Homo sapiens: one gene and its partners. Each later gene encodes a partner of the first gene's protein in a complex. Each region holds a gene or a part of one and is shown in the gene's direction. Other genes may lie near its edges.

Evidence for each region.
Region 2: ARID1B (region 1) and SMARCA2 share a complex: the UniProt entries of both Homo sapiens proteins name them as parts of the neuron-specific chromatin remodeling complex.
Region 3: ARID1B (region 1) and DPF3 share a complex: the UniProt entries of both Homo sapiens proteins name them as parts of the neuron-specific chromatin remodeling complex.

Annotation. Positions count from the first base shown.
Region 1 is NC_000006.12:157,177,233-157,189,063, forward strand, and holds part of ARID1B (AT-rich interactive domain-containing protein 1B), read left to right. Parts: intron 1-3,736; coding exon 3,737-3,946; intron 3,947-6,998; coding exon 6,999-7,203; intron 7,204-11,831. UniProt on the Homo sapiens protein: Involved in transcriptional activation and repression of select genes by chromatin remodeling (alteration of DNA-nucleosome topology).
Region 2 is NC_000009.12:2,078,097-2,089,927, forward strand, and holds part of SMARCA2 (SWI/SNF-related matrix-associated actin-dependent regulator of chromatin subfamily A member 2), read left to right. Parts: intron 1-3,735; coding exon 3,736-3,899; intron 3,900-5,250; coding exon 5,251-5,317; intron 5,318-5,989; coding exon 5,990-6,100; intron 6,101-8,732; coding exon 8,733-8,975; intron 8,976-10,403; coding exon 10,404-10,517; intron 10,518-11,831. UniProt on the Homo sapiens protein: ATPase involved in transcriptional activation and repression of select genes by chromatin remodeling (alteration of DNA-nucleosome topology).
Region 3 is NC_000014.9:72,605,975-72,613,373, reverse strand, and holds the end of DPF3 (zinc finger protein DPF3), read left to right. Parts: 3' UTR 1-4,340; downstream 4,341-7,399. UniProt on the Homo sapiens protein: Belongs to the neuron-specific chromatin remodeling complex (nBAF complex).

The DNA of each region.
Region 1 (11,831 bases):
TAGTGGAAAATGTCAGATTATTGCTCTGTGTTGAGAAAACAGCCACTTTTTTGAATGAGATGCTAATTCAAAAAGGGGAGCAAAAGAGAGTATAATGAAGAACCTAACATTATCTCTGCTATCAAATCACTGCAAATACATGCAACCCCGGAATAGTTAACTGCTCTTTCTGAGATGCCGCTTCAATTTGGGCTTAAAATTGCTCTTAATAGTGTCCTTAATAAAGCCTGTCTAACAGCAGGTCTGGAAAAGGCAAAATGATGAAGATGCTCTATGCTTTGACAGTGTACTGTGGACCAACATTGTTTTGTTACAGAACATTCTAAAATAAAAATAAACATTTGTCCATACACATACACATACACATATTACCAGGCATATGGTAAAGACTGCTGAAATGTAAATCTGCCTAAAAGACTTGAGGAAAATGTACTTATAGGCTTAATTAAAGTATATGCAAGGAAAACATTTGTGGCACCATAATAATGTCTTGCTGTAATTTTACAGCAATTTCCATTCCTTTTTCTTGCCTCCACAAAGTTTCACAGCAGTAGGATACAATTTTTGCAACACTGAGGCGGTACTAGGTAGGCCTTAGTGACTGGGAAAAGTGAACCCGTCTTTCCGAAGGGCGAGTTTGTTTGCCTACTGTCAGTGGGAGGAGTGTAAATGAAGACCTTTATCCAAAGCCAGCGTCTATGAACAAGGACAGTATGTTTGGAGCCTGGTCAGTGATGAGAGTGATAACGTACATGCTCTCTATTCACTAAGTCTTTAATTGCGCTCTGTTCAGACACTAAATATTGGCTGTGGTCATTGCCTGCCCAGTATGCGAACCATAAGCTGGGGTGGAGGCGTTGAGTGCTGGCAGCGGACGCAACCTCTTGCTCAGCCTTCAGTCTTACTAGACTGTGCCCACGTTCACTCCACACCTTGCTCGGTGAAATCCTGTTTATAGGATATTTGAATCAGCTGTTAATTCCTGTTAGCATGTTCCAAGCGTTTCACACCCTTTTTGTCCATTGGAGTAATCACTCATGGAAAAAAAAAATGCTATCACAGCCCTCCAGCATGCAGAGCACCACGCTAAGTGTTGGTGATCAGCATCCACCCAAACTCTGACTTGTGAAACTTAGGATCTAGTCGGAAAAGTGGGTGTCAGACAAATAGTTACGTGCAAAACATACAGTTTTACACAGTGTGTGACGTCGTGCTGCAAAGGAAAAGTAAAGCGTGTGGCAGTGGTGAAACTGAGGCCCTGGTTCAGCTAAGTGAGCCAGCCTCGGGAGGCCTCTTCCGAATTTATCACGTAAACTGAGGCCTGACCGTGTCAGTTCCCTGCAGATGCAGTTTCCTACATTATGGTGCCATAAAAATGCCTCTTAGAAGATCTAAAAATTATGAAAAAGAACTATTCTCTTAGAAAGTATCTTCATTTAATTTTTCCAGTGTTATGACAACAAATTGAGATAGGCACAAGTTAATTAAACTTAAGTTTATTTAACCAAGGAGAGAAAAGTTAATATATAGTCAAACTGTGTCCATCATTATCTCAGGCCTATTCCAGCTTGTAAGAATCCAGTCCCTTCAGAAGCAAGAACAAGCATTTCTGTGCCCCGTTGCTCTGTTCATGATTCTATTCATCCAGAACCACTCCCCAGTTTCAGTTTAGAGAGGACCAAACCAGGAACGGCAGATGGATCTTACAAACAGGATATTGGTTGAGCTAATTGGAGCAATTTTAAATTGAAATGATTGCCTTTATTTGTCTTATCTTTAAACTGAATCTCAAACTTTTACCTCAGTTTTTTACAAATAAAATGCAAGAGGGAAGTTGTTTTACTGTTAACTGATTATAGATTATAATGCCTTTTTCTTCATGTTCTTATTTCAATTTTTCACTTTTGAAAACGTTGGACCCATTTTTTTAAGTGTAACTCCCCAAAGAAGAAAAAAACTCTATACTAAAATTTAGAAACCTCCTAATAATAACTGTCCCGTTAATAAAAAAGAAAACTCCATACTAAAATTTAGGAACCTGTTTTTAATAACTGTCCCATTAATGACGGCAGAGCTTCTGAGGTGCTGCCCGGATGAGAGTCTTGTGTAAAGTGTGTTAGAGCAGCCTCTTTTCCTAGTCAAGTAGGCCTTGGGTACAAGGATATGAAAAATAAGCTTTAAAAATTTATTTGGATATATAGTTTCTATATTCTAAGTGTACATATGGGTTTATAGACATATATATATTCACACATATATGAATATGTATACATATATATTTTTTAAGCTCTTATCTAAAGTGGTTTTTAAGTGATGTGAAGTTTAACCTCAGCATCAAAGTATATTCTAAAATATAAAACAACTATTTTTTATCATTCTACATTTTTTATTTACATCAACTGTATCACCCATTACATATTTGATAAAGAGGTTATGCCTCAGTAATTCTGAAGCTGAAGGCTTAAAATCTCAGCCCAGTGACTCTGGAGAATCACGTGTTAGTTAAAGGGAAAGCGGCGGCCTCACATGCTGCGTAAGTTTCATTCTCAGGCATCCTTTCTGAGGGACCTACTTTTACTGGAGATCATTCTGCTAAATAAGGTAACATCTAGCCTCAATGGCAGTCATGTTAGTTAACCCCCTAAACCTTCAAAAATATGTTTAAAATTATGTTAAGCTAAATAAAGAAAAAAGGAAAAAAAACTTAAGAATTCTGTCTGTAATAATTTCTCTATATTGCAAATAATAACCTAGGTATGCATAAATAAAGTAAATTATTGTTCCAAGAAATCTTTATTGAGAACTGAGAAAAGATTTTGTACAATAACCCTAGTATTGCAAATATTGTAAATATTTTTACAAATACAGAGATATAAATAAGAAAGGGAAGAGATACAGTTGGCCCGCCTAGGGCTAAAAGTGTTACCTGTCCAGATTATGTAATCCACGGAGTAGGCTTCAGGTGTTCAGAAACGGCAACTCTTGATATTTTAGTGTCAGGTAAAAGCAGGTACATAGAAACCCAAGAACTAGAGTATCAATATAAAACACATGAGCATATAAATACATGGGCATAAAAATAAATGTATATGTTTATCCATAAATCCCAAAGCTTTGGTTGACCCTTAGTTTATCTAAAAAAAAAAAACAAAAAAAAACAAAAAACACACGAGCTTATAGCCCACACCACTGGTTCCCGTGACTGGAAATCTACCTTATATTTTTCAGCAAGCACCGTGTGGTTGCTCATCCTCCAGATGCTGTAGCATTTTAACGAAGACACCCTTTAGCCATTCTTGTTTTGACAAGGAAAAGTAGGAGTCCATTTAATGTTTTGGGCTCTATAATATCACATGTAAAAATTTTAATTCACTATGATCATTCCATGAGCTAGAACCCTTTTATTTTTAAAAATAACATGAGGTGTCACTGGAATTTTGCCTTCTGGGATTCAACGCTTATATCCAAAAAGGGCTTTGTTCTTTTTTGTTTTTGTTTTTAAGTGTATAAAAGGGGGAGTTTGGGCCTTTTATTTAAAGTAAAAGTAAATTCCTAACTAAGAAAATGTATAGTTTGTGCCTGAACTAGTAGCCTTCATTCCTAATTGTTGTGTGATAGCAGTAGTTTTTAATCTCTTCTCTTCTTGTATTTGTTAGCTCATTACTTTTTTCTCACCTTCTTCCCTCTCCCTCTGCCCACCCATGCCCCACCTCCACATGCTGCTTCTGGGTACTAGAAGTCCAGCTCCTCCACCACTACTGGGGAGAAGATCACGAAGGTGTACGAGCTGGGGAATGAGCCAGAGAGAAAGCTCTGGGTCGACCGATACCTCACCTTCATGGAAGAGAGAGGCTCTCCTGTCTCAAGTCTGCCTGCCGTGGGCAAGAAGCCCCTGGACCTGTTCCGACTCTACGTCTGCGTCAAAGAGATCGGGGGTTTGGCCCAGGTAAGAATGAGTGAGGGAGGGGGTGAAAAAGGAAGCATTGTGGATAAGTTCTTACAGTGGCTTTCTTTGAATGTGTGGACTCATTTTTTTTCTCACAAAGGAAAAGCTAAGCCTGTGTGAAAGTCGCCTTCTTGCAACCCACGTCTGTGTGCTGTCAGGGAGCACTGGGGGACCCTGGCTCTGCCACCAACTCGCAGCGTGACCTCAGCAGGTCATGTTCTTGGACCTCAGTTTCGTCATGTATACAGCGGGCCAGACTAGATTTTCCTGTAGGTTTTCTTACAGCTCCAGAATTCTCTGGAATCTGCCAGTAGTTCATAGTAAATACTCAGAAATGTTTTACAAATGACTGAATTAATTATCTGTGTCAGATATAAGTCACATTTACTGCTTCCCTCTATCCAGAACAGGTTAGCAGGAAAATTAAGTGATACTTGTCAAACCATGCCCACAATAACTGGACAGTTAGGAGGGCCATTGCTGTGACCTCCAGCGGGCTAGGCCTGAGGTGTGACAGGGGAGCTGCCTGGGGTGCAGATTTAAGGAGCTATCCACTGTGTGCTTGCTTGACTCTCAGAGTGAGTGCGTCCTGAAGTCTCATACCCCAGGCACCGGCTTTCCTCACTGTAGCCCTCGCTCCTTAATCAGGAGTCTAGTTGTAGGACCACGCCCTGTCATAGGAACAGGGAAAAGGTACTCACTGTGTAACCTTTGTCTTTCTAAATACATGAGTCACCAGCCCCAAAGCATAGATGAGAAAACTCCTGTGTAACAAAATCAAGTACAGGATGGGGTGCAGTGGCTTACACCTGTAATCCCAGCACTTTGGGAAGCCAAGGCAGGAGGATCACTTGAGGCCAGGAGTTGCAGACTAGCCTGGGGACCCCAGTAAGACTTTGTCTCCATTAAAAACTACAAAACTTAGCCGGGCGTGGTGATGCACACCTACAGTCCCAGCTGTTCAGGAGGCTGAGGTGGGAGGATCACTTGAGCCCAGGAGTTCAAGGTTACAGTAAGCTTTGATCACACTACTATACTCCAGCCTGGTTGACAGAGCAAGACCCTGTCTCAATAAAAAATAATATATTTTTTAAAAAATAGAATAATGCTGTAGCCCAGGGACACTCACAGGGTAGTTGGTGGGGCCAGGTCTGTCTGACTCCAGACACATACTCTTCCCATTTGCCACTGGTTCTGGAGTCCAGCTATGCATTAGAATGGCCTGGGCAGCTTTTCAAAGCTGTCAGTACCTGGGCTACCACCCGACATCAATGAAATGAAACCTTCTGTGCCCAAGGTAATCTAACAGGCAGTCAGAATCAGGCGCCCTGCGCCCCACCAAGGTGGCGGGGGTCACTAACTATCCAAGGGCAAGTCATCTGCCCTGCAGGTGTCACTGACGGCCTACCGTGGTCTCAGTGCTGCGTCTCGGGGGAGAAAGGGGAGGCCTTCTTTGTGCTTAGCCTTCCCACTAGGTGCCTAATCCATTCCATGGGGGAACTGAGACCTGTGACAGAAAGAATTAGAGCTTGCCCATGACGCTGCATAACCAGCTGCTAAGTCGTGTGATACCACGTGTGAGTGATGGTCAGCAAAGAGAATGATTGAGACACGCCTCTCTCTGACCTGGACTCCCTGACCTTTCCCCTCTGCACCTGGGCTCCTTTGCCTTCTGCCCCTGGACTCCCCTGACCTTTCTCCCCTGCACCTAGCCTCTTCTGACATGGATTTTTTAGAATCACCAAGACTGCTCAAACGATTAGATTTTATCAGCCAGCACAGAGTAGATAGTGTCTGGCTACTTCCTTACTGTGACTGTGTCCACAGTATATATAACCAGGCTGGGTCTGTCATGAGACTCTCCGCGGGCTTATAATGAGGGTTGCTGGAATGTAGCTGGGTTGCATCTTTGTCCCCACCCCATCATGCTGTGTACCTTGTGGGCATCAGATGTGGTTGGGAGCAGGTGCTGCCACCACACAAAGCTCAGCTCCCAGCCTTCCTTCTTAGGTCACACTGAGCAGCGCCCAGCTTGCCATTTCTGAAGTAACCTGAAGACCCACAGTTTGCAGCCCTGCATTCAGTGCCAAAAGAGGGCGGTGGGCATCTCCGGGAGCATCCACAATTTATTATACACCACCGAGTACTAAGTAAATGGACAGAAGAGCCGTGTGAGAAAGTTTGAACCCAGAAATTTAATATTTCATTAAAAACCACTGTCCCCTTACCTCCTCCCTTGCCACACAACGCAGGAGACATCAAAAGGCAAAACCTTCCCCAAGTTATTTGCAAATCCTCATGTTTCATCCATGTGTTTAACCGTTTAACCTTTCATAACCTGTTCCCAAGTGGGAATCAAAAGGTTAAAATAATGCCTCGGATCTTGACGTCACATTTCAGGAGTTCTCTTTCTTTCTCCTCCTTTTGCGACTGTGTTGTCTCCAGCCCTTTAAGCCTCCTTGAGTAAGAGCACCGCACAGGAAGGTGTGCACCTGCCCCGTCAGCAGGGCTGGTGGCCAGTGGCATCGCATCATGCTTTTTAAGTTGGGGGCCGTTGGTCCAGGGGCTCATTTGCCTTTGCACGAGGTGCTGCTTTTGCTTTTGCCTGACACCCCAAGCAGTCTTGGGGTGAGGGGATGGGTACGGCCCAGAATCACAGGCCCACTTCTGAGGGCTTGCAGCTGCTGGAATGAGCACTTTCACATCAGTGCCCAAAAACCTAACTTGGAAAATAGTGCCGTTGTTGCTTTTTAAATGTTTTGAGATGCCCTTTTTCCTTAATTGGAGGTGCAGTGGGATGAGCGTGAGGCGTTGGGAGATGTGGCGGGCAGAAGGACCTCCGAGCAGTGCTTTTTCTGTTGCCATCAGCAGGTTCCCTAATGGTTTTATAACTGTAAATGCTGCCTATGCACTGCTGAGTGGGAGTAATGAGCATTAGTTAAAAGAGGCAAATGAAGAAAAGTCAACCAAGACATTAAGTGCTTTTTTTGTCTCCTGGCTTTAAACAAGCCACTTTGTTGCAAACCAATGATCCTGCCGTGTTTTTCACTAGGTTAATAAAAACAAGAAGTGGCGTGAGCTGGCAACCAACCTAAACGTTGGCACCTCAAGCAGTGCAGCGAGCTCCCTGAAAAAGCAGTATATTCAGTACCTGTTTGCCTTTGAGTGCAAGATCGAACGTGGGGAGGAGCCCCCGCCGGAAGTCTTCAGCACCGGGGACACCAAAAAGCAGCCCAAGCTCCAGCCGCCATCTCCTGGTAAGTGGCGGCGCTGCAGTCACTGGCCCAGGAAAGCCCAGGCGCCTGGCCTGGGAGGTTCCGGGAAGGTGGTTTCACAGTCAGGCCAACAGGGAACTTGGGACTTTTGAGAGGTGGGGGGTTCCTGTGTCGTTTTGTTTATTTAATTGGACGCCCACTGGCAGTGTTAAGGGATGAGAGAATTAAATCTGGGATATGGCCATTTCTGGTTGACACTTGGAAGGCACCCCTTCTTTTGCTTTACCTTAATCAAAACAGGCTTTCGAATTCTAAGCCATATACGTTTATTGCTTATACAAGTATTCAAAAAGATTCCATCTACCTCTACACAAAATAAAGATCCCCCAGTGGCCAGTTTGAATACATGTGCACTTCTAGGAAATGCCACCCTACAGGTTCGACAGCTCGAGCTCCCCCGCCCTCTTTCGGAAATCCTCAGATTTGAACTTTAGTAAAATGAAGCCTGGGCTTCGTTTCTAATGTCCCCTACCCAGCAAGTTCTCACTTCTAGGGAATTTAACAAGCTGTCGTGGTAAGGATCCACACGGCCTTGTTTTGGAAACAGGTGGTCTTTTGCAGCCTTGTTCTGGAAGTCAGGGGTCTTAGGAATGGGTGCAGCGCTGGCCACCAACACGCTCGCAGGCCGAGCCACATCAGTGACGCCTGCTGGCTCCCTTCCCTCTCCTCCCCACTGACAGAGACCCTCCCATTCCTTTCAGCTCCCCTGCCAGCCTTCGTTCTACCGTTTGGCTTTCAGATTTGAAATGACAAAATCATATATTCTGATAAATGCAATAGTAGAGAGGGGAAGAAATTGGCACCTTAGTGCTGGGTGGTGACCTTACTCCAGTAGATCCGACCATTCTCTTATCTGTGTCTGCCTCGCAGTCAGCGACCTTCAGCACATTAGCCTCACTGTTCCTGGTCCCTGTCTATGAGATGTGGCTGCACCCACCGCTCCTGTACACAGCTTGTTCTGAGCGTGGCTGGCAGCCCATGTTTCCTGAGCACTTCCAGTGTGCTGGGCCCTTTTCTAAGTGCTATCATTTCATTTTCACATCAGCCCTGTGACATTGATACTATTTTAAAATCCATGAGAAAATGAAGGTCTCGTGGAATCTAAGTACTTGCCCAAAGCCAACTAGCTGGGGAGTAGAAGGTCTTATCTGGGGCATCTGGTGCTACAGTATACACGATACCCACCAGACACCTCTGGCTGTATTGAAAATACCTTTGTAATATGTGAAATGTTTACACATAGAAGCCAGAGAAAGAGGTCATTTCATTTTTAATGATTTCCTCTAGCTGCTGTCTGGATGGCAAAGCTGATATCCAAGGTTGCTAATCAAGGGATCTCACATAAATACGTTTTAGGCCCAAAGTGCACTTGTAGTGAATATACCTAGAATTACATCTGTAGGCTCTAAAAACAAGTAGAAATCCTCGCTAACCTCATCCTTAAAGATTCAAAGGCTTTACCAACTCAGGTGTCCCTTAAAAACTGGGAAATCTAATTTTAAAAATCTCACAACATTACATCCAGTTCACAGAGTAAAACAAGCTGCCTGTGAACAGCTCTGAAACTATTTTTCCAAAATAAAAACCCAGTGGGGCGTAGGGACCAAAGTGGTGATGTCTGTAAAGATCTAAGGGTACATTTTATTTGCCAGGAAAGAACTCGTGTCACTGAATGGGCTGCACTTGTGTATGGAGAATAGCTCTCCCAGTGTGCATCAGCTTCAGGACGGGGGCCCTGCTGAGGCGTATAGATCCTTCAGAAAGTGGAGGGCCTGTTCTCTTAACAGCCAGCCGTTCCCTTTTCCCCTTTTTTAAACTGTCATTTTTATGGCAACATTATCATTTTAACTACACAAAAGAGCTTGGATTGCAAATGGACTCCTGGTATACATTCTTCTCAGTAGTCCAGATGGAGCCGAGGGCCTGTGACACAGGAGGCAGTGGAAGGAAAGCCTCCTGGTCTCGTCCAGCCCCGAGAGCGCGTGCAGGGGGCTCCAGGCACACACAGGCGTCTGGGGGTCGCAGGCAGAGGCACCCTGGTCTTCAGAAGCCTCTCGATTCACTGCCACCCACACAGCAGGTGGCCTCTCCGATTCCAGTCCCATCATTAGGGAAAGTGTCTGGAAACATTTTTGTTGTTAAAGGAAAATAAAATTATTCCCAACTATTGGCCATGTTAGAGTCTCATTTATTACAAGATTTTTAAACACAAATTTACGGTAAAAATGTATGTTCTTTGAAGTCACTTTTTCCTGGAAGAACATAATTATAGTTTATTTTTTACCAGCACATTCAGGCGAACTAAACTAAAAGATTCTGAAGAAACATTTTAGATTTTTTTTCACCCAATGGTTGCTCTGAACCAGCTAAAATCCTAAGTCTTTTGACTGTATTCTAAGAGCACTCTAAGTCATCTGTCTCTAGTCAGGTTTCAATTTGGGGTGCTAATACAGCTCTAGGCTTCAATTCTGTCAGCCTCTGGGAGGCATAAGCCCCTTGGCCCCTGGGGCTGCACCCCACATATCACTGCCAAGTGGCTGTGTGGCTTCTCACACCGGATGTCTGGGTTCCTGTCTTCCAGCCACCAGAGCAAGTCAGTGATTGAGACTCCCAGGTGAACCAAGGCAAGGCCATGGGGTGTGGTTTGTGTCTTTAAGGTGCCAGTGGCGATCTTGTTATAAAGCATCTAGAAAAGGTTGTGGGGGAGTTCCAATGAGCGCTGTAGGAAGCACCTCCCCAGCCTGTAAGCTGGAGATGGGGAGGGGAATGGAAGGGACCAGGCTGGGAGAAGTGGGGCAGGGGTGGGGCATGGAGCTCCACATTCGGTTAATAAGTCTGTAACCAAAAACCCATCCATCTTGGCTGGCAGGTGGCTGACTGAATTTCTATTATTAGCTGACAGGTGATGTCACAAAACCTGTCATGGATCCAACTAGGGAATCCTCAGTGGAAGATAAATGAGAAAGGGACTCAGGTTATAAACAGAGGTGCCCTCTGGTTGACCTCTAGTCACTGTAGACCTGGGACATATCAGCTATTCCTTCTCCCCACCCTACTTCGCTCAACCCCGCCAGAACTAGGGCACCAGGTTCGTGCCGGGTAAATTATCTTCCCAGCTAGGAGCCTGGCCATGCTGTCTGAAGTGTGTGAATGTACTTAACCTTCAGTAACCTTTCCATTGTTTACTTTAGAGTATACATTTGTAGCTTCTGGCAAAAGGTAGGGATGTCCTAGAGAGCCTGCCAGCCTCCTCTATTAATGGAGTTACAAGAGGTTGCATTCATTTTTTTTTTTTCCATGAAAGGAAAGGAAAAAAAAAACACTGGCAAGGGAGATTTTTCCTTTTTTTTTTTATTAGCTATAAATGTGAATACTTGTAAATAAGGGTCTTTCTGAAATCAAGCCTTGCAAGTGATGTTTCCAAGGAGGCTGTCGGCTGGAGCGGAGCCTGCCTGAATTTCGAAAGCAAGTCATTTCTCTTCTGCAGCACTAGGCGGGCAACCATGTCTGCAGGATTATTACCCTTTTATATCTGCAAAAGACGGCTTTCTTCCTTTACTCCAATATACCTTTTTAACATGTGTTTCCAGGGTTTTACGCAAATTTGGTTTGTAAGTATGAGTGAATACATTTTTCTTTTAAAATACCTACAATAAGTGTCAATCTTCTCTGTATAACAAACCCCCATGACATGCGTTTACCTATGTAACAAACCTGCACATCCTGCACATGTACCCCTCAACTTAAAGTTTAAAAAAAAAAAAGTAAATAAAAACTTTTTTAAAAAAGTCAGTCTTTGTGGCATCTCTGAGAACTTCTCTAAGTCATTCAGTGCAGGGCTCACAGGGACGGATGTTACGCAGTGTTCAGCTCTGTTGGCCAGCGTTCATTCCAACCCAGGCCAGAGGCTGGGCAGACCTCATCTGGCTAGGAATGTCTCTGTCTAGCTGAGGCTTTCCGAGTAGAAATAATGTACTCATTTTGATTTCTGACTCCTTCCCAGTGTCCTCTGTAACCTCTCGTGGTTTGTTTCACCTCCATTGCCACTAGAGTAAAATGTGAATAATGGTAGTTGTAGTGAGCCTTGGGAACGTCATAGGAAAGGCATTCTACACAATAACATGGAAAACGTTATTCACAAGCAGCAGTAATCCTGCCATTTGTTCGGGGGGTTCTGCACGTTTTTATCAGAAACTCCATGAGGGCAGGGGTTGTTGTCTTTCTTATCAGTTTGGTCCACTGGTGTATGTGAGCATAGAAGAGAACCTAGACTATAGTAGGTGTATTACTCATTTATTAAGTATTTGTTTAATTCACACATGAAACCAGTATCTATTGATGATCTGGCGTGCTAAGGACTGCAGTAGATGACAGAGCAGGAGCCCTGCAAATGTTACGTTTTTCCCTCAAGGTGAGGTTAATTAATTTTTCCAAGAGTCCCACATAAGGTTTGGAAAAAATCAGTTCAATTCTGTTATTATAATGTAATTATACTTAAAGCCAAATCTCAGCACCCTGATAACAGCATTAAAAAAACGCCAAACCAGTATGACTTGTGCTTTTTGATAACAAATCTGATTTCATAGGTCAAAAAGTGACACTATTAATGA
Region 2 (11,831 bases), on another chromosome or scaffold:
AATTTTTAGGTGTGGCTGTGGTTTTATGCCGTGGATTGAACCCACCTAGGAGTAGCTGTCTACTACATTTATGCTTTTTCTTAAGACACAATAGGCCAGGCATGGTGGCTCACTCTTGTAATCCTATCACTTTGGGAGGCTGAGGTGGGTGGATCACTTGAGGTCAGGAGCTCGAGACCAGCCTGGCCAACATGGTGAAACCCTCTCTCTACTAAAAATACAAAAATTAGCTGGGTGTGGTGGCACATGCCTGTAATCCCGGCTACTCTGGAGGCTGAAGCAGGAGAATCGCTTGAGCTCCGGAGGTGGAGGTTGCAGTGAGCCAAGATCTTAGCACTGCACTCCAGCCTGGGTGACAAAGTGAAACTCCATCTACAAAAAAAAAAAGAAACAATAAAATTGTGAGCATCTGTGCTTTGATTAAAAATTAGGCCATTGTTTTATTTGACCTGTCTGGATTGAGGCTAATTCCCTGTGTTCTACCTTCTACCACTTAGTGACGTTTCCCAAATTGTGTTCCATGAGACATTTGTTCTATGAATTGTTCCTTAAAAATTAAAAAAGGAGGCCAGGTGCGGTAGCTCACGCCTGTAATCCCAGCACTTTGGGAGGCTGATGTGGGCCGATCACAAGGTCAGGAGATTGAGACCATCCTTGCTAACACAGTGAAACCCTGTCTCTACTAAAAACACAAAAAAATTAGCTGGGTGTGGTGGCGGGCACCTGTAGTCCCAGCTACTCGGGAAGCTGAGGCGGGAGAATGGCGTGAACCCAGGAGGCGGAGCTTACAGTGAGCCGAGATAGCACCACTGCACTCCAGCCTCGGCAACAGAGTGAGACTCTATCCAAAAAAATAAATAAATAAATAAAAATAAAAATAGATAAATAAAAAAAGAGGTTTGTGGCCAAATACTGTAACTAAGATTACCATATAAATTACTATTTCTAACTTGAATACTTGTGAACGTGAGTCGAGGGCCTTATTATTGATAATAGGCATAACCCTGGACTGTCCCTGAACAACAACCAGATACGGTCACTCTGGCAGTGACCCCTCTTGTTAATTCACATGCCCGTCAGCACACTTGGGACTCTGCGGAAATCAACATGTAACCATAAGGCACATCAGCATCCTGCAGTAAAATCACTTCTTTAACATTGTTTAACTTCATATTTCCCAAATTTCTTTGACTACCAAACCCTATTTTTATATCACCAATTAACATCCTGTAAGACTAGCGTCTTCTAGAATACACTTTAGGAAGTGTACTTGTTGGCATCGGGTCCTCTCTACTCTTAACACTTGGTACTGTGTCTGCTGCCCTTGCATAGGAGTGCAGAATACAATGACTGCCAGTACAGTACTGCCTTGATGGTGCTGAAGCACTAGCAGTTTTTACCTACCAATGCTTTTGCATCATCAGTGCAGACGTCAACACAGTAAAAATGACAAGTAATGCCTTAGTATTGTCATGCTAATCATTTTGACCTCGTGGATCTCCTTCCAAGATCTTGGGGGGCCCTGAGAACCCCTGGAACACATTCTGAGGACCACTGCTCTGGCCTTAGTAAGATCATGTTTTCTCCAAAGACCATGTCATAGTCCTGAGATCCAAAGCAGGTTTCATCTTGTTTGGCCTACCTGACATAGATGTTAACTCATAGCATGCTCTAATAAACTTTTGTATATCTGCATATGGGAGATCCATCTTTTGAATTATTTGTGAATAACTTGTAATGCCACATGGGTTTTCTTCTGTCATCCAACACCCTTCTAAGCAGTCTTCATCACTCTCTTTTCAAACCTAGCTCCTTCGACTTCCATATGTGAGTTTTATGCCTCTGTGTTGCTGAGCTGCTGTAGATTCCCCGAACATGCCTTGCAGTGTCTCTCTGGATTTATACCTTATGAAGTGCCTTCTTCCTGGAATCTTGACTAGCCATGTCCGCCTGATGAGATCTCACAAACCAGTTCAAGTTGTGGCTCAAACCTTCCCTGATCATTTCTCATAAACCAGTTCAAGTTGTGGCTCAAAGCCTTCCCTGATCATTCTCTCCATGAGTAAGCTTTCTATCTTCTTGCTTCTTGACAGGTTTTTGTGTCATTAATATTTACTTAACCTTGACACGGCTGAGGTCTTCCTGCTACTCCTAGAGAGCCACATAAGCTTGGTTCAATATCTAATCCTCCCCCTGGCCAATTCTGCCAGTTTCCAGCCTGAGAAAATCCAAATTACTTCCCACAATTTTTGTGAATTTCTAGTCTCCTCTGCTGCTAGTTTCTACTTCTGTTTTGTATTGAATTAGCACAAACGCAAAATTCAGCCCCTTTACCAATTTTCTCTAAAAAAAGCAGAAACAAAAATTCATCCTACAGAGTATCCAAAATGTTTCTTGTATTTAGTTGACTTTTCTAAAGCTCTAGTGGTTTCAGGGTCACGTTGCAGGCTGACAGCTTCTCCTGTCTACCACTGTTTGTTTTATAATAATTTCCCCTCTTTCCCTCTATCTTTTGCCCATTCTCTTGGAGGTTCTTCCTGTTTCTCTACTTATCTCTTGTTGTTGTTGTAGTTCTGCAGAAACCTTTAGGATGACTTTGGAATCTTGCATGGTACAAAGTATCTCAAGTGGCTTATGGAAGTATTGCTTCAAACCAATGCGGTGTCTCCCTAAGAAAAATTCTTGTCAATACAGTTTTATATGTATACATATACATTGGCACTGTCAACCACTTCTTGGCATATGTGTATATGTGCCTCATTCATTGTTTTCTCTTTTATTTGAGCTTCTGAAGGGAGGCATGCATCTTACAGACCTTGGTATCTATCTGCTACAGCTCCTTGCATGGCCCCTTGCACAGAATAGTCATTTAATAAATATTTTAAATAAACTAATTGCTTGCTTTGTTCTTACATAAAAAATTAACATTTCCCTAAGCATAACATCATTAGCAAGCTAAATTGACTTTAGCAAACATATATATAATTGATCCTATCATTTAAATCCAGCATCTGTGGTATGATGGTGGAAGGGAATTGTTGGTTGGGGGATGGAGGTTTAACAATTTTGTATTTTCACCCAACCTTACTTTTGTACTTAACGTGGGGAATCTCTGGTACAGTGTTTTTGTACTTCAGAAATACGTTGAGCATGTTTCCAGTTGCCAGCTTCCAGTGTGCAGCCTTTGGGTAGTACTCACATTACAAAGTTCCCATGTGCTGTCTGGGAACTTTCTCTCTGCCAGGAAGAGAAATGTCCTCCTGTGGTCCCAGCAGAGTGTCCCTGGCTCCCTGGTCAGTCCGCCTTTTCACTGAGGGGACCTCACCCATATTACCGAAAAGGCTGTTTTTAATAATCTGTGATCTGTGTGCCAAATCTGCCTTCACATTGGCTTTTTATTCTTGGAGTGGTTGGATTAGATTTTGGTTTGGGCTTTTTTCATTTATAATAATTCTAGAATGTCACATACTGTGAAATACTAAGTGTGGATGAGCGGCAAAGCTGCTTTAAAACTCACCTGTCAAGAAGCAAGAAGAGAGAAAGCTTACTCATGGAGAGAATGATCAGGCTCATATTTTACATTCTTTTTGCATTGGTGCTTCCCCCATTTTCCTACTGTGGGAAACCCAACATACAGCAGTGAGGAGTTAAGAAGTCACACCCTCACTTGGGTTGTATTAGGATTAATTACCTGTGCAGATCTTGGATAATTGAAGCAATTACTCTTCATTTCAGCTCCAGGGCCTGGAATGGATGGTTTCCCTGTATAATAACAACTTGAACGGAATCTTAGCCGATGAAATGGGGCTTGGAAAGACCATACAGACCATTGCACTCATCACTTATCTGATGGAGCACAAAAGACTCAATGGCCCCTATCTCATCATTGTTCCCCTTTCGTAAGTAAAGTCATTTATTCCACAGTCATCGTTCTGTATGTTGTAGAGTGCCCGATTAGTAGCTTGTCCTTGTTTTTTACTTAAGACAGAATTGTAGCATGTACTAACCTAAATCCAGATTACCAAGAGCATGTAATCTGGATTTAGGTTTTAATTTCCCACCCCTCCCCATCCTAGCCTGTTTGATTGGCTATTTAAGCACGGGACCGAGTGATTTTATCGGCCATCAGCATTACAGGTCTGCACAGCCTGAACACTGCATAGTGAGTCTTGCTCATCATTATTCCTTAAGTGGCTCACAAAGGGGAAAGGTGTGTGTGTGTGTGTGTGTGTGTGTGTGTGTGTGTGTGTGTGTGATTTCTTTGATTTTTTCCTTATTCCATTTCCAAAAGATGATATATTCTTAAATCTTCCTTTTAAAAGCAGAACATAAATCAAAATCATAACTAGGAGTTTTGCATTAAAATAACCTTAGTATGTGCACTGAGGTTATGTTTCAATGAGTTTGCTGCTTAGTAAGGACAGGAGTTTGCTGTTCGCCATTACGTTCCCAGTGCCTCACCTGCTAGGTGGTTCTTAGAAGGTCCTAAGTGGGCACTACCGAGTGAGGGCACAGTGATTCACAAGCACCCTCCTGGGAGTTCAGTGTGTCTGCCTGTGGGTGTTAGGTTGCAGTTTTGTTCACCAAGGTCTTGTTATAGATCTCAATGCTGATATGAACTTGGACCTTCAGTAAGAAGAAGGATTCTATTAATATTATTGTGTTTTCTTTGAATTTTTTCTAATGAAGACTATTTGCAGCCCTTTTTGTATGAATTATCTGTATCTGTAATATTTAGGCATCTTTTGCATTTGATCTATATTTTGCGTGTTCTGAATCATATATACAGTGACACTTTCAGGGCTTTAAAAAACGTCATTCAATATTTCTTCCCCTGTTCCCTCTTGACAGATTTATTTTATGTTTTCATGTGGTTTTATAATTTCTTTTTCCTGACTCATCTTTTTTCTGAACCTATATGGCTGTTTATGAAGATTCCTAAAATCATTCTGGCAATTGCTCTTTTTTAATATCATATTACAGTTTAGTTTTTTGCTCTCTATATTTATGTATTCTTTAGTTTTTTTCTTACAAGATTTTTTTATGAACCACAAACTTGTCATGTTTTGTGACAGTTTGTTTTGAACTTATCTCCTATTTCCACACCTTTAAAATAAATATCTTGTTGAGATATGTTATATTCTGTAGCCCCTTTCAAGGTGAGGCCTGAACATGAATAAGAACATCTTTTTAACCATTGATTTTTATACAAATGTCTTTTTTCTGTTGTTTTTTTTTTTTGTTCCATAGGACTCTATCTAACTGGACATATGAATTTGACAAATGGGCTCCTTCTGTGGTGAAGATTTCTTACAAGGTTTGGAATGCTGTATTTATATATAAATGTGGAAAAGCAAAAAATAGACCCTATTTTCTTCATTCCATATGCACATCTGTGAACTGTATTTGGTTGTAAAGTTTTGTCATGTACATCATGTACTAAACCGTGAGAGTTAATCATCCCAAGAAGATTACTGTAATAAACCATAATTACTTTCAGATAGTGAAATCCAGAAGAAAATTGTTAATTATCATATTGCAAGGTTTCTGATGAGAGTAATACAAATGACAAATATCACACATTCTGCGTGCTGCTGACTGGCTCGCTGTGGGCTGCTACTGTGCTGACTGTTCCTGCAAAGTCAGGCAATTACCCGGATGCCCGGGGCTGCCTGCTGTACTTTCTCAACAGAACTGGAGCCTTTCAGCAGAGCGGTGGGTTCTCTACTACCACAAATTCACTGTCATTTCCATTTCCCTTTGCCCTCCCACTGTCTTTGGTGGGAAAACCTTTCTAAAAAAAGATCTGAAAAGGGTCAAGACGTGTAATTTAGCCAAAACTTCCTCGTGTATAATAGATCAGTCTATGAGAATGTGTGTCTGTGCATTCTTCAGTCACATGTCTGGGCATCATTAAGCTATGAAAAGTGAGAAATAATGCACATATATGTCCATAGGATCATGCATGTATTTTTTTCTTTCCATTCAGGGTACTCCTGCCATGCGTCGCTCCCTTGTCCCCCAGCTACGGAGTGGCAAATTCAATGTCCTCTTGACTACTTATGAGTATATTATAAAAGACAAGCACATTCTTGCAAAGGTATGTTTTTAAAAAATTATTTTCTCTCTAATTAGGACCATTGCACTGGAATGTGAAGTATTGCCCAAGTCAGTAGTGTAATTGGATCCTTAGATGGCTTGTCCTTTTCTTTATTTTTCTAAAATTTTTTCAGAGTTTGATATGTTTTGGTCGTGGATTTGATTTCATGCATGCTGTGTGTGTGTGTGTGTGTGTGTGTGTGTGTGTGTGTGTGTGTGTGTTTATGATTGATCCTGGGGCGGCTCTTGTCTATCCCCTCAGAGTTGATGAGTTTACATCTCTTAAAAAAATTCACCTGGTTGCTTCTGCAACTCTTTTTCTCTCTAACAGCTTTGCACATTCTCGGGAAAGAAATAATTGTTTTTGTTGCCCTGAGATATTGTCAGTGTACCTTCATTCTTCTTGTGCCTTTGTTTCTCCAAAGATGAGCCAGACACCTCTCCATATGGTCTCCACCATATGAACATTTATCCAAGCCGTGGCTTTTGTGGTAGTCTTGTTTCAGGTTTTTCCTGGTGAAATAATAGACTATCATTGTTGGAGTTACTTAAGGTTGTTTCTGTGACTATTTATTTGAAACTGAGAAAGAGGTGTTTCTGTGACTTACATGTCTCCTAATTTTTATGTCCTAAGTTGTTCCTTAGCCACAAAGTAGAAATTTTTACTCCCATTTATATCATCTTGTCTTCTAATACGTTCATGTAGAAAGATGGAAGTGCTCTCTTTCGTGGAACAAATAATGAAAACTCTTTTTTTTCCTCTTTAGTAATTTTTTTTACCCCATGACGTTTTGAAAGCACTATAATCTGAAACTAAGTTATGTCCAAAATTGAATAGAACCTCTATTTCTGGGGTCTATTCTACCTCTGCATTAAACTCTTGCTCTGGGAACTGAGAGTTCCCTTCATGGCATCATAGGAAATAACAAAAAGGAAATGTGTTCCCAGGGGAGGTTTAATAATTGAGATGGCACTGGCAACAATGCTGTGTTCCACCTCCTCACACTCAGAGATGAATTTGGCAGTGTCAAAAATGATGTGTTTTCAATATTACTATGGGAATGTGTTTGTACATTTGAGATCCTTTTAAAAAAATTCATCTTGTGTCTTCTGCATATGTATTTCAAGATTCATTGGAGACGCCTGGTAATGAGATGCACTGCTTTTATTTGTTACTGGAGAAATGGAGCTATAGAAAGAGGTAGTAATTTTGTCCAAGTGGAAGACCTAATTAGTAGTAGACCCCATAGCAAAATCAAAGGCCTCTGATTCTTTATTATTTCATAAGCTAAATTAGGCAGGAAAGTAGATTTAGGATATTTATTTAAATATATTTTTTGTCTGCTTGCCTCTTTTCATGCTGTTGGTAAGTCTGAGGCAGTTGATTGTACAGCTTTAATTATCCTTAAACACTTTTCTTAGAGGTGGTGGAGGAAGGAAAAAAAATCGAGGTAGTTTTTTTTTTGTTTTTTTCTTACCTGTACATCCCAGCCTGACTGATGATTTTATTCCTTTTCTCCTGGCACGTCTGATGCTTCTAATGAGGAAGGCAAGGACTGTATAGAATACTTTCCTCATCTCCCTTCTCTCTCTAGGAGCTTTGCAGCAGGATCTGGGGACATCTGAGCACCAGATGTTTTTCTTGGCCATTGCCACTGTTTTGTAGAGAATGGATAGGCTTAGTGGAACATTCCTCATTGTTCTCACTTTAAGAAACTGAACAGTGCTCTTAAGAGGACTGAAGGGTAAGGTATGAGAGAGGGAACGTACTGTGTAGACAGGAAGGAGGACTGGGCCATATAAGCATTCTGGACGTTTTACGCAATCGTCATGTTGGGGAAGTATGCTGTATTTAATTCTGCAGTTTTGGCATAAATACAGGAGTGATATTTTTGCAGTGCGCTTTCTGCCAGTGAGTATATTCTTTTATTTTAGATAAAACAGGGGTCCTAGATCTGGCAGGTAAGGAATGTGCGTGTATTGAGGGAGCTTCGTTGTCAGACCTAATTTTTGAAAAGCCGTATGTACAAATTTAATGTGAAATAGTCCAACTTTTAAATGTTAGCAACCAGTCCAAACAAAACAAAACACACTTCCGGGCCAAGCCCTAAAGGTAGTAACCAGCCAGGCTAATAGAAAAGAAGGCATGGAGCCAAGAATATCTCAGCTGTAGAACCTGCTAGGGCCATCTTGGAAAAATCAGTCATTAACCTCTGCTTCAGGTGGGTACCTATATTCTGTGCCTGTCATGAGCTGAAATAGCATGACCATGAAATCTGGGATAGCTGTCATGATAACGTATTAATAGAAGGGGCATTGGATGGGGAGAGGCAGGATCCACACGTGGAAACAACCATGTCATTCTGGACCCAAATTTCCTTCTTTGTAAAAAGTTGATTTGGAATTACGTGGTCTGTAAGGAACATTGTTCCTTTAACATTCTATTATTATAGGATGTCTTATGCGGCCTATCAGGCATGAGACATTGTTGAGATTCCCTTGTCTCAAAGGTAATCACAGCATATCATATACCAAGGATGGGTTCTTTGGTTTTCCGCACCACCACTTGCTTGTTGGAAATAGTTGTATTTTCCCTTGCTTACTACACGTCCGTCCTTCCTCTTGTGTTATAGATTCGGTGGAAATACATGATAGTGGACGAAGGCCACCGAATGAAGAATCACCACTGCAAGCTGACTCAGGTCTTGAACACTCACTATGTGGCCCCCAGAAGGATCCTCTTGACTGGGACCCCGCTGCAGAATAAGCTCCCTGAACTCTGGGCCCTCCTCAACTTCCTCCTCCCAACAATTTTTAAGAGCTGCAGCACATTTGAACAATGGTTCAATGCTCCATTTGCCATGACTGGTGAAAGGGTACTGGTCTGAGTTCTGTTTTTTCCACTGCATGATAATGACATGAAATGAAAGGCCCTAAAGCTGAGAACATTAGAGCCACAGAACACCCGCAGGGTGGTTTCCACTGTTGTTTATTTTATGAAACCCATCGGTGGGTGGACATGGTCTTGTGGTGGGGTTATTTTCCCCTCCTAGGAAAATGGATCTAGTGGTACATGGGGCATCTAACCCCTTTGTCTTTTGCCAGCATGTTTACCAGGCTACCAGAAAAGGGTCCCAACCGGTGGAATGCTTAACTGCAGTGGGCCACAGGGAGGATGAACATGGAGATATTTTGCTGAAGTAATTTAACCAGACCAAATTAACCAACTAAATACAAGCTTTAAACAAATCTTTCCTTGTTACAAACTTGGAGTTCCCTTTAAAATATTTCCACATAAAGATTTTGTGTGTAAAACAGAACTAGTTTTCACACATTTTCTGCAGACCTTTTTTTTTTCTTTTTAGGTTTTAATGTGATTTTCAGTTTTGTGTGTACATAAATAGTCTTCCTGGAGTAGCCATTTATTTTCCAATTTCTTATTGTTCCTTCCACTGTCTTCTCTTAAGAGCTCATTTATGAAAGGTAGACAATGGGCCATTGCAAGAAAAGAAATGGGCACGTGTCATTTTCATAGTGGTTCCTCATTCATAGGAATGAAAAGCCACTAAAAATGCTTTAGTAAAATTTCGGTTTGAATTATTTGGCCCTTTGATGTTGAGGCACATGGGCCCATCCTCAGTAGTTAACTCACTGGCTTGCCCATTTGTAGAAAGTAGTGTCAATCAACTCTGCCCCCTAGAGGTTAATAGGAGAAGGTGAAAGAGAAAGCCGGGAAATGTATAAGATGGACTAAACTTGAACTAGATAGGGCTGAGAAAAGGAAAGGAGTGAAGTTAGAGGGACTTAGAGGTCCACCAGCATAAACTGGATCAACTCTTGTTCCTCTTCTTTATATGTTCAAGCCCCTGTTCCTTTAGTATGTTTCTGTGTCTGAGACAACCAAGACGAAGGGCCTAACTTAAGGCTGCCACTTTAAATAGGGAACATATTAACTGTTGCCCACCTTCTCCCATTCTATCTCAGTCTTCAGTCTGTCTTCATTGACAGTCATATCCCATACAATTTGAGGCTGTTGACACTACTGATAAAAAACTGGTGGCTTCCGGGCTCTTTTCCATAGAACTCAGCGTTAAGACAAAGACACCTATTTAGAGGTCATTTTGTTACCACTTGGTAGGCAGGTGGGAAGATAATTCAGAGGTAGATATGACAGGCTTAAACTTGGCTTTAATGCATGTAAAATGTCAATCATGTATTGAACCACACATATGTAACATAAAGCTTTATTGTATGAAACATCCTTTTCTTTAAAAAATCAAATTCATAATAAGCCTCTCTTACAGGTGGACTTAAATGAAGAAGAAACTATATTGATCATCAGGCGTCTACATAAGGTGTTAAGACCATTTTTACTAAGGAGACTGAAGAAAGAAGTTGAATCCCAGCTTCCCGAAAAAGTATGTTGCACAACCAAAAGTTGTGGGTTTTTTTTTTCCTCCAGCAAATATATTTGAAGTACCTGCCTCTGAAATTGTGTTTCTGAAACAGCAGACTCATATTGTAGTTAATAGTATCTTGAAAATATCTTAAATTGTTTTTTTGTTTGATAGGGCTAGAGAGAGCAGGGAAATTATAGCATTTGCAGCCTGTTTTCCAAAAGCGTTCGAGCAGATTTTATGAAATTATCAAATTCACTGAGTCTCATTTACATTTTAATTTTAGATTTTTTTTTTTTTTTAAATTACGGACCTCATTGAGTTCACTGTTGCAGGCACTGTAGAATTGTTCTGCTTATAAGTGAATGGAAGATTTGGCGTTGGGGACTTGTATCATCATTGAAGGGGGTGGTAAACATTTACAGGTTTTCTAGAAATTTATTTAACATTTGATGTTTGTGATGTCACCATTCTGACAGTAAGTGAAAAAACAGAGTTCCTGCAAATTACAGACACATCATCTAATTATTCGGGGACATTATTTTTGTTCTGTGCCATAAAAATTAAGTTCCTGTGAACATTTTAAGCCAGTATTTTTCGGACTAACTTTTGGAAACTTAGTCTGCAGTACTTTAGAACACCTTTTGAGCCCTTAGCTCCATGTTTTGGGGTTGGATGTGAGTATTAGTTTAATATGTTTCTGATCATATTTTGGAACCATGCATATTTGAATTCTAAGTTTCATTCTCTTAGAGACAGTTTAGCATTGTGTACTATTTGTTGCATGAGGTATTTTGATTTGAGTTTTTTCTTTAGAAGAGCCAATTCTGAAATGTCTTATTTTTGCATGATTGTGGTTTTTCTGGGTAACGACTCTATTTTTGGACAGATTGGTTCATCCTGTTCATTTTTAAGTGGGAGTTTTCAAGATGGTGTACAACGTTGATCACTTTGTTACGAGAGAATTTTATTCCCTAATCCTTTATGCATTGTCAGAAAAAAAATTAAAAATGACTTTTATACCATGCATATCTCAGTGAAAGTCTACGTATTTAAGTATTTTATTCTGCTGGTGAATGCATCTTGGACGTAGAATGCTATTGATATTCCCTTGGACTTCCTGTGGTCTTGGCCTCTGGGTAGCACCCTTTCTGTTCAAGATGGAGTTTAGTTACTGAGTAGATAAATTGATGAATGGGTATAGTGGCCATGTGGGTGCCTTGAATTACTTCCTAGCATACAGTTACGGTGATTCTGCAAGTGATAGAGATGGAATGTTAAACATTTTAATTTATCCCATAATTTCTTTTTTTTTCTTTACAAGAGGTATAAAAT
Region 3 (7,399 bases), on another chromosome or scaffold:
AGAGATATAATTACTTATCATGACCTCTAGCCCAGGCATTGAGCAAAATGGCCCTGTAGGCTGGCACCAACCCTGTCTAGCAAATAAACGCGGCCATGGTGGGGACGGGAGGGCAGGTAAGTGGGCCTTGTAGGAAATGGCAGAGGCCTGTGAGCCCCTGGGGCCTATATATTCCCTCAGCAACACAACCCTACAGACTCCCAGGTTATATTTTCACTCACTGCATCCCATTTGCTCATTTGCTCGCCTCTCTGCATCTCTGTTCTTCATTTCAATGTTATGAATATTGATGATGAGAACAGGAATGCCCATGTGCATGCGCGTGCGTGCACGCACGCACATACACACACACACACACACACACACACACACACACACACGCCCTACTTAATGAACCAAAGGGAAACTTTGATGTTGCTCCAGGACAAGAGGGAGAGCCAGGGGCTGCCAGGCAAGGTGCATCTTTCCTGAAGTCTTCTCCAGTCCTGCTCCTCCAGCTCTCAGCCTCTGCACAGCCACCAGGGTTGCAAAGGGAGCCTTGTGCTTGGAAAGCTACTGGCTCCGCGACCTCTCTCCTTCTCTTCCCTTCGTTCACCTATGCTTCTTTTCATGAAAGATATTTGGCAATAGTTGGGTACTTCAAAAGTCTCAATTCTGCTATCAAAGGGATGCAAAGCTTTTATGGCTAGAATGGGGTTTGTGGTTTATACGGACTTGGTTTGCCCTTCCATGTCTACTCCCCACTGAGACCCTGATTCTCCTCCTGCCCTCTCCCTTCCCTGCACTGTTTCCTCCCTTCCCTCTGCCGTGATAGATGCTAAGGAGTGGGGTGGAGGTGGGAAGTGGGAAGCAACAGTGGCGTATAGGAAAAAGAAAATATACCCCGTGCACATTTTCAACATGTAGTTGAAGAAGCCTAAATTAGGTACTAGAAAAAAAAAAAGGACAGAAACACTGCCTGATATGTGAGCAAGAGCATGAAAATATAGAATGATTATCTCAGAGCAGAGGAGGTGGGGAGCAGGTGGCTGGAGAGAGGCGGGGTAGGTAGGCAGGGCGTCCCTGGCTCACCAATGCGTCTGGTCCACATGGCATTTGGGAAAGCAGATGGGTCATGCTTTTGCAATGAATGGTCAGATGCTTAGGGGGCATTTGTGCTCCTCTGGCCAGGAAAGGGAACAGAGTCCATCCAAGCTGCCCCCCACTCATCTGCCATGGTTGTCCACCCTGGGGGTTTTTCCTCTGAAGGAAAATGAACCCATCTTTTGCCTGCCATGAATCATTGCAGGGCAGGCTGTTACTGGCTAAATTAAAACCCTTGGCAGGGCATCGACTGTGTGCGAGGCAATGCTCTAGGTCCTGTAGGGGCTGGAAAATAAACCGCATGCTGGCCTAGCCTTCAAGTTGCTTTTCAGCCATGAAATTAAGCTCTGCCAAGCAATCGTGATTGTAGGTCAAGTATCGCGCCATCACGGAAGGTGTAAGTATATGTAGGTTTCTCTGTTGAGGATGCGTGTTCCTCAGTAGAAGACAAGCAGGTGGAGGCATCCAGTGATTTCTACCCTGTGGAGGCTGAGGGGTCGGGGGAAGAAAACAGATGACCTCAGCCTAGTTGCTTTAATCTGCTTTTCCAAGCACTGGATGCCCTTGGATGACAGCATCCTCAGCATTAAAACTGGTGAACTGATGAAGTCACCTGGCCTGGAGTGTGTTGGGCAGCCAGTGTCCCCAGAGCTGCTTGTGGGTTTCTGGGGTGGAAGGCAGGGAGGTGCAACTGGCAGGGCCTGATCAGAGGCAGAAAATGACCCCCACAGTGGTCTTTTCCCTGCTAGAGAAAGCAGAGAGCGGGACTGGGGGGGTGGGGGCTTCAAGTACAGATTGGGCACACTCCACCAGACCCCAGCAAGGTCAGCTGCCCCACGCCTGTATCTGGCACTGCTGGTGTGTGCAGGGATGAAACCCAGCATCAGAGAGGTTTTCAGCAAACCTTCCATGCTCACCTTTGGCCAGGTGCTTGTCAGATCCTAGCTTCGTGCTGGCTTAGACTCTCAGTTGTTTGTGTTGACAGCATTAGGAATAAACCGTTTGTTTCATCTTTCCTTTTCTCCACACGTGTCACAGCCAGATTTCAGCTTTGAGTTATTCCCTGAAGAAGCCACACCAACCTTGCTTTCAAGCAAAATGCCTGGGCTTGGGGGAAGGTGTGTATCTGTCCATGTGTGGATGTTGGCTCAGAGCTATAGCTTCTCTGTGGGGGGTGGCCCAAGGGAAGGCTCCTCTGGGGCCCTGGATGGCACATGACTCCCAGTGAGGAGAATTCTGGTGATCTCTGTGGAGGTAGTCAGGGACACAAGGCTTGGCTGTGAGTCTGGTTTTAAAGTGCGTGACAGCCTGAAAAGCATGCAGGGGTTTGGTCCACTCACCTACTTGAAAGCCTGTGGGCAACGTTCTTTTGAGCCAAGACTTCTCTGAATGGCCCTGCTGGTGGAAGGGGTGAGGCAAAGGCCTCTGACTTGGACCCTTTCCACACCAGACTGGCAGCACTTCCCCCAGGCAGCCAGTGGTGGGCCCTGAGCCCTCAGGTCCCCAGCTCCTTGAGGGATGAACCTGGGAGCCCAAGAGCCAGTGGCTGAGCTCTGAGAAGGCTCCATCTCCCACCTGCCCTTGAGCGCGCTCTCAGGCTGAGAACACGGTCTCATCAGGCGCCTTCCTGGCCTGATGCTGTGCTGTCTACGTCACACGGTCGATTCACAAAAGCCAGAACTAGACCTCAACCAGGTCATCTCCCCGTTGCCAAGTGGGTTCAGGGTGAGGGCAATTTGTAAGCTCAATTTCTCTGACAGCCAAGACATGGAGCATCTCTGCTAAGAAGCCAAAAGAAATTGGTTTTCTTCTTCTCATTGCTGAAGCCCCTCTGTGTCTCTTCTCAGGGACAGGCTGGTCCAGTGGCTTTGGTGAGGGCGCCTCCATTTGTGAACGCTGGGATTCCTCTGGGTGGGCTTTGGCAGGTGGCTCCTATGGTAGGAAGGATGACCAGGTCCCTGGGAATGAGCTGCCTACCTGCTGCTCCACGAGGAAGCTCAGGCCTGCACAGGCTCCACCAGGCCTTGGATGCCCTCTAGTTGAGTCAGAGACCCTGGAAACACACTGAGATCTCCAATTGCTGCCTCCATTGATGTCTCTAGACCTGCAGATACGAAGCAAACCTGGGATTGCTTCTTCCAGGTATGGGCACCAGAGAGGGAAGCCACTGCAACATTTTATCCCCATCATTCCAAAATGCTTGCTTGTCTCTTTTACCTCACACTCACAACTCCTTCTGAGACTCTCAGTCATAAAGGAATGACCAAGAGAGTGGGTCTCCAGTGAGAGAAATGCCTATGAAAGAGGGTTTCCCTTTTTGCTCTTTTGAACACCCTCCCCACTGATCCTTGGGACCCAACGCCGCATTGCCTCTTGCAGATGAGGTTTTGCCTTGGGCTGCTTTGGTACTTCAGACCAGGACTGAGTCTGACACAGCTTTCATGAGGTTACAGAAAAGGGCTACAGATTTGGGAAGCTGTGTGTAATGGTCTTGAGACAATATCTCCATTTGGCCCACCCTGGCTTCTCTAAAAAGCAACGACAGCAACAGACAAACAAAAAGCTCCCACCTCCCACCCCGTTAGCTGTCCTCCTCCTTCACTGTGATGTGGTTGCGGTCTCTGTAGGTGTGTGTGCCACCCTTGTCCTCTGTCCTCTGGGGATGTGCCCTTCCCACGTGTGTCAGGTTCCCACTCTTTCGTGGTTCCTAACGTGAAGTGCTGTGATGTTTCTGCCCTGCCTAAGGAACGTATCAAGCTCTCTCAGTGTTTCAGTGTTGGAGATTGAGGCTGTGCCACATCTTCTGCCATCCTAAGGGGACATGATGGTTCTGTGATTCCCAGAGAGCTGGCAGATTGTGACAATCTCCAGGAGAACCTACAGATTGGAAGCAGCCCACACCTGATGTGGACTCCTGACCCGGGACTCACTCTTCATTCAGAAGACTGGTGGCCCACGTGCCAGGACCACCCCACCTCTCTTGCTGCCTTTTCTCCTGTCCTGATGGGGTTCTGGGAGGGAGACCTGTCGCTGATGAGATGAAGAATGTGGGGATCGAGCAGCCTTCTTCTTTGGGACCCCTCGATATCCCATGGAATGCTCGCACGTTCTCAAAGACTGAGTCACAAGCCCCTACCCCTTCCTTGCTGTGGTTAGTATCTTGTTCTGTGATTGGTTAGCAATGTTGACTACCCACGTAGTGAATCTTTTGTCTGCAATTTAGAGAATGTGTAAACAAATAAAAGGCTTTAAAACTCTTGGAAACTCTTATTTTCCCTACGGATAGTTAGGACCTCACTTGCAAATGTAGAGATCCTGTGGGGGTAGAGCCCTTTCATGTTGGGGTGTGCAGTAGGACTGCATTGTGTAAGAGAGAGAGAAAGAGAGAGAGGGAGAGAGAGAAACACGCATGCGTGTGCATCAGGCTCCAGAGAAACACTAGTGCTTTCATGGTTGCAGGGAGACTCCAGGAGCAACAAATTCCAGGTCTCAGTTGCTGCCTGGTGATGAGCTTCTGGCCACGTCATACATAGCACCAGGGAAGCCACAGTCACCGTGACAGCTTTCATGGGCACAGTGGGCAGCATAGCTTCAGGCCTTAACTGAGAGCTTCATCTGCAGGAGTAGAGCAGCTCCTTTTCTGGAGACCCCTCAGAGAAGCTCCTAGGGCATCCTGAAAGGAGCCCCCTAGATTTTCTAGGAGAAGGGAGGTTGATGAATCAGAGATGACTCACAGGAGAGGTGGGGGAATATGGTTGGGGAGAGAGAGAGACCTCTGGTGCAGGACCCATCTAGAAGCCAGCTGAGTCATTGCTTCTTTTCTCTCAGCTGCCTTCCATGAAGGCAGTGAGTTGGCTGCCCTGGGCAAGGAGCAAGAGGTATCACAGAGGACACATCTGCCCCTAGAGTCTCTAGAGTCTGCTTAGCAATGGCCTTAAAGCAACAGCCTGTGGGTATAGGACTCCTGGTCCATGCGGGAATTGGTTTCCTGAGGCTGCAAGTTAAGAGTCAGTCTCCCAAAAATAAATTTTAGATAGATAAATAAAGGCCTCTACTCTATGCTAGGTACTGGGGCTACAGCAGAGAAGACAAAGCTCTACCTCTCATGAGGCTCACAATCTTGCCAAGGAGGCAGGCACCAGACAGGTAATAGTACAACATGTGATGAACGGGGTCAAGGGGGAAATTGAGGGAACTAGAACATGAGCTCCCTGGTCTCGATCAGTCAGCGTGGTTTTAGTTGGAAGCTACTGTGCATTTTGGTAAGACACAGGTGGGCATGGCAGTGGGAAGACACCATGTCACTTTTTATTCCTCCCCTAAGTGAGTGCTGCACTGTTCTTTAATGAGTCATCCATGCGCCTTCAGCCTTTGCTTTTCTAAGCATAATGTGGGGCCGTTATTTCGGCAGAGAAGCCATTGATGGTTGCTGCGGACATGGGTCATTGAGCAGGTTGTCGAGCCATCTCTGCAGTGGGAGAGATGTTCGCATTCAGGGACCAGAGGGGAAAGGCCAGGCCTTCACCCAAAGCAGTTTCAAGTGACAGCTGGACCTGCAATGCTGAACTGCTAAATTCAGCAATCAGGGGGACTTAGGCTCATATAACAAAATCCAGGCAGCAGACGATTACACAGACACCCACATTCAGGCCTTTCATCTGCACAGAGAGCTGTGCACATTTCTGCTTTAACCCCAGGGAACCCGGCATTGCATCCTAGTCTGCTATGGTATGAATGGTATGTCCCCCAAAATCCATATGTTGAAATCTCCACCCTCAGGGTGATGGTATTAGAAGCAGGGACTTTGGGAGGTGATTATGTCATGGGGGGCAGAGTCCACATGCACGGCATTAGTGCCCTTATAAAGGAAGCCCAAGACAGACCCCTTGCCCCTTCACCATGTGAAGTTGGAGTGAGAAGGTGGCTGTCCATGAGGAGGCAGGCCCTTGCTGGACACCGAATCTGCTGGCACCTTGATCTTGGACTTTCCAGTCTCCAGAATTGTGAGAAATAAATTTGGCTTATTGTTGATAAGCCACCCAGTCTATGGCACTTTATTATAGGGGCCCAAACAGACGAAGACATTTTATCCCATCAATTTCTGAGAGAGGTCTTTTGAGAAGGCAGTAGATGTGCCATGTTCTGTTGGACCTGAGAAAGTTAACTATTATAATGCAGCCCAGAAACTGACATTGCCCTGAGTCAGAGGGATGGAGGAGGGAGGGGGTGTTAGTCCATTTTGTGTTACTAAAGGATATGCCTGAGGATGGGTAATTTGTAAAGAAAAGAGGATTATTTGGCTCATGGCTCTGCAGGCTATACAAGAAGCATGGCACCAACATCTGCTTCTTGTAAGGACCTCAGGAAGCTTTCAATTGAGGAGGAGCAGGTGTGTCACATGGTGAGGGAAGGAGTGAGACAGAGAGGGGGAGGTCCTAGACTCTTTTTAACAATCAGTTCTAGTGTGAACCAATAGAACAAGAACTCAGTCATTACCTACCGCTGGGAGGGCACAAAGCTGTTCATGAGGGATCCACCCCCACGACCCAAACACTTCCCACTAGGCCCCACCTCCAACACTGGGGATCACATTTCAACACGGAATTTGGTGGGAACACACATCCAAACTATCAGCGGGGAAAAGTGGAAGGATCCAAGTTATGTTCAAGCAAACGCAGAGCAGAACGGCCTTCCTCTGCTTTTTCCCTGGGGAGAGGAAAAGGCTTGGAATGGTGGTGGAGTGAGGTGGCGAGACCTAGGAAGAAGGGACCAGTGGGATAAGATGTTGATGAGTGGCTCAACACCCGGCAGTAGTGGGAGTCTAAGGGGTGGGGTTGCGATAGAGATATAATATGGTTTCCCCTCCCTGGGTTGGCAGAAAGGCTACTGAGAGAGGAATCAGAAGTTCTAGATCTTGTCTTATCTGGCTGGGTGACATTTGACTTTATAGATACAGGCATGAGTTTCTATAAAGTCAGCCCTAGACTTAGCGGGTTTGGGGAAGGGGCCATGCAGATCGAGGTATACATGCACCAAAAGATCATGCCTGTCTTCCAGCCCCCAGAGTTGGCCTGAGTCAGGGGCCTTCTGGGGTGTCTGGCAAAGTGTGTTTCCATGCAGTGCCTTGGAATGGCATGGTTTAATACCAGACACGATGAGGCCAGAGGTTTACATTGTTCTAGAATAGTGGTTTTCCAAGCAGACTTTGCAGAGGCCTAGGATTCTGGGAGTGATTTGGGGATGCCCAGAGGTCTCGGGGGACAAGGGTGGAAGGAAAGTCCTTGAGCCTTGAGCCCCAACTTTCAACTCAAACCAG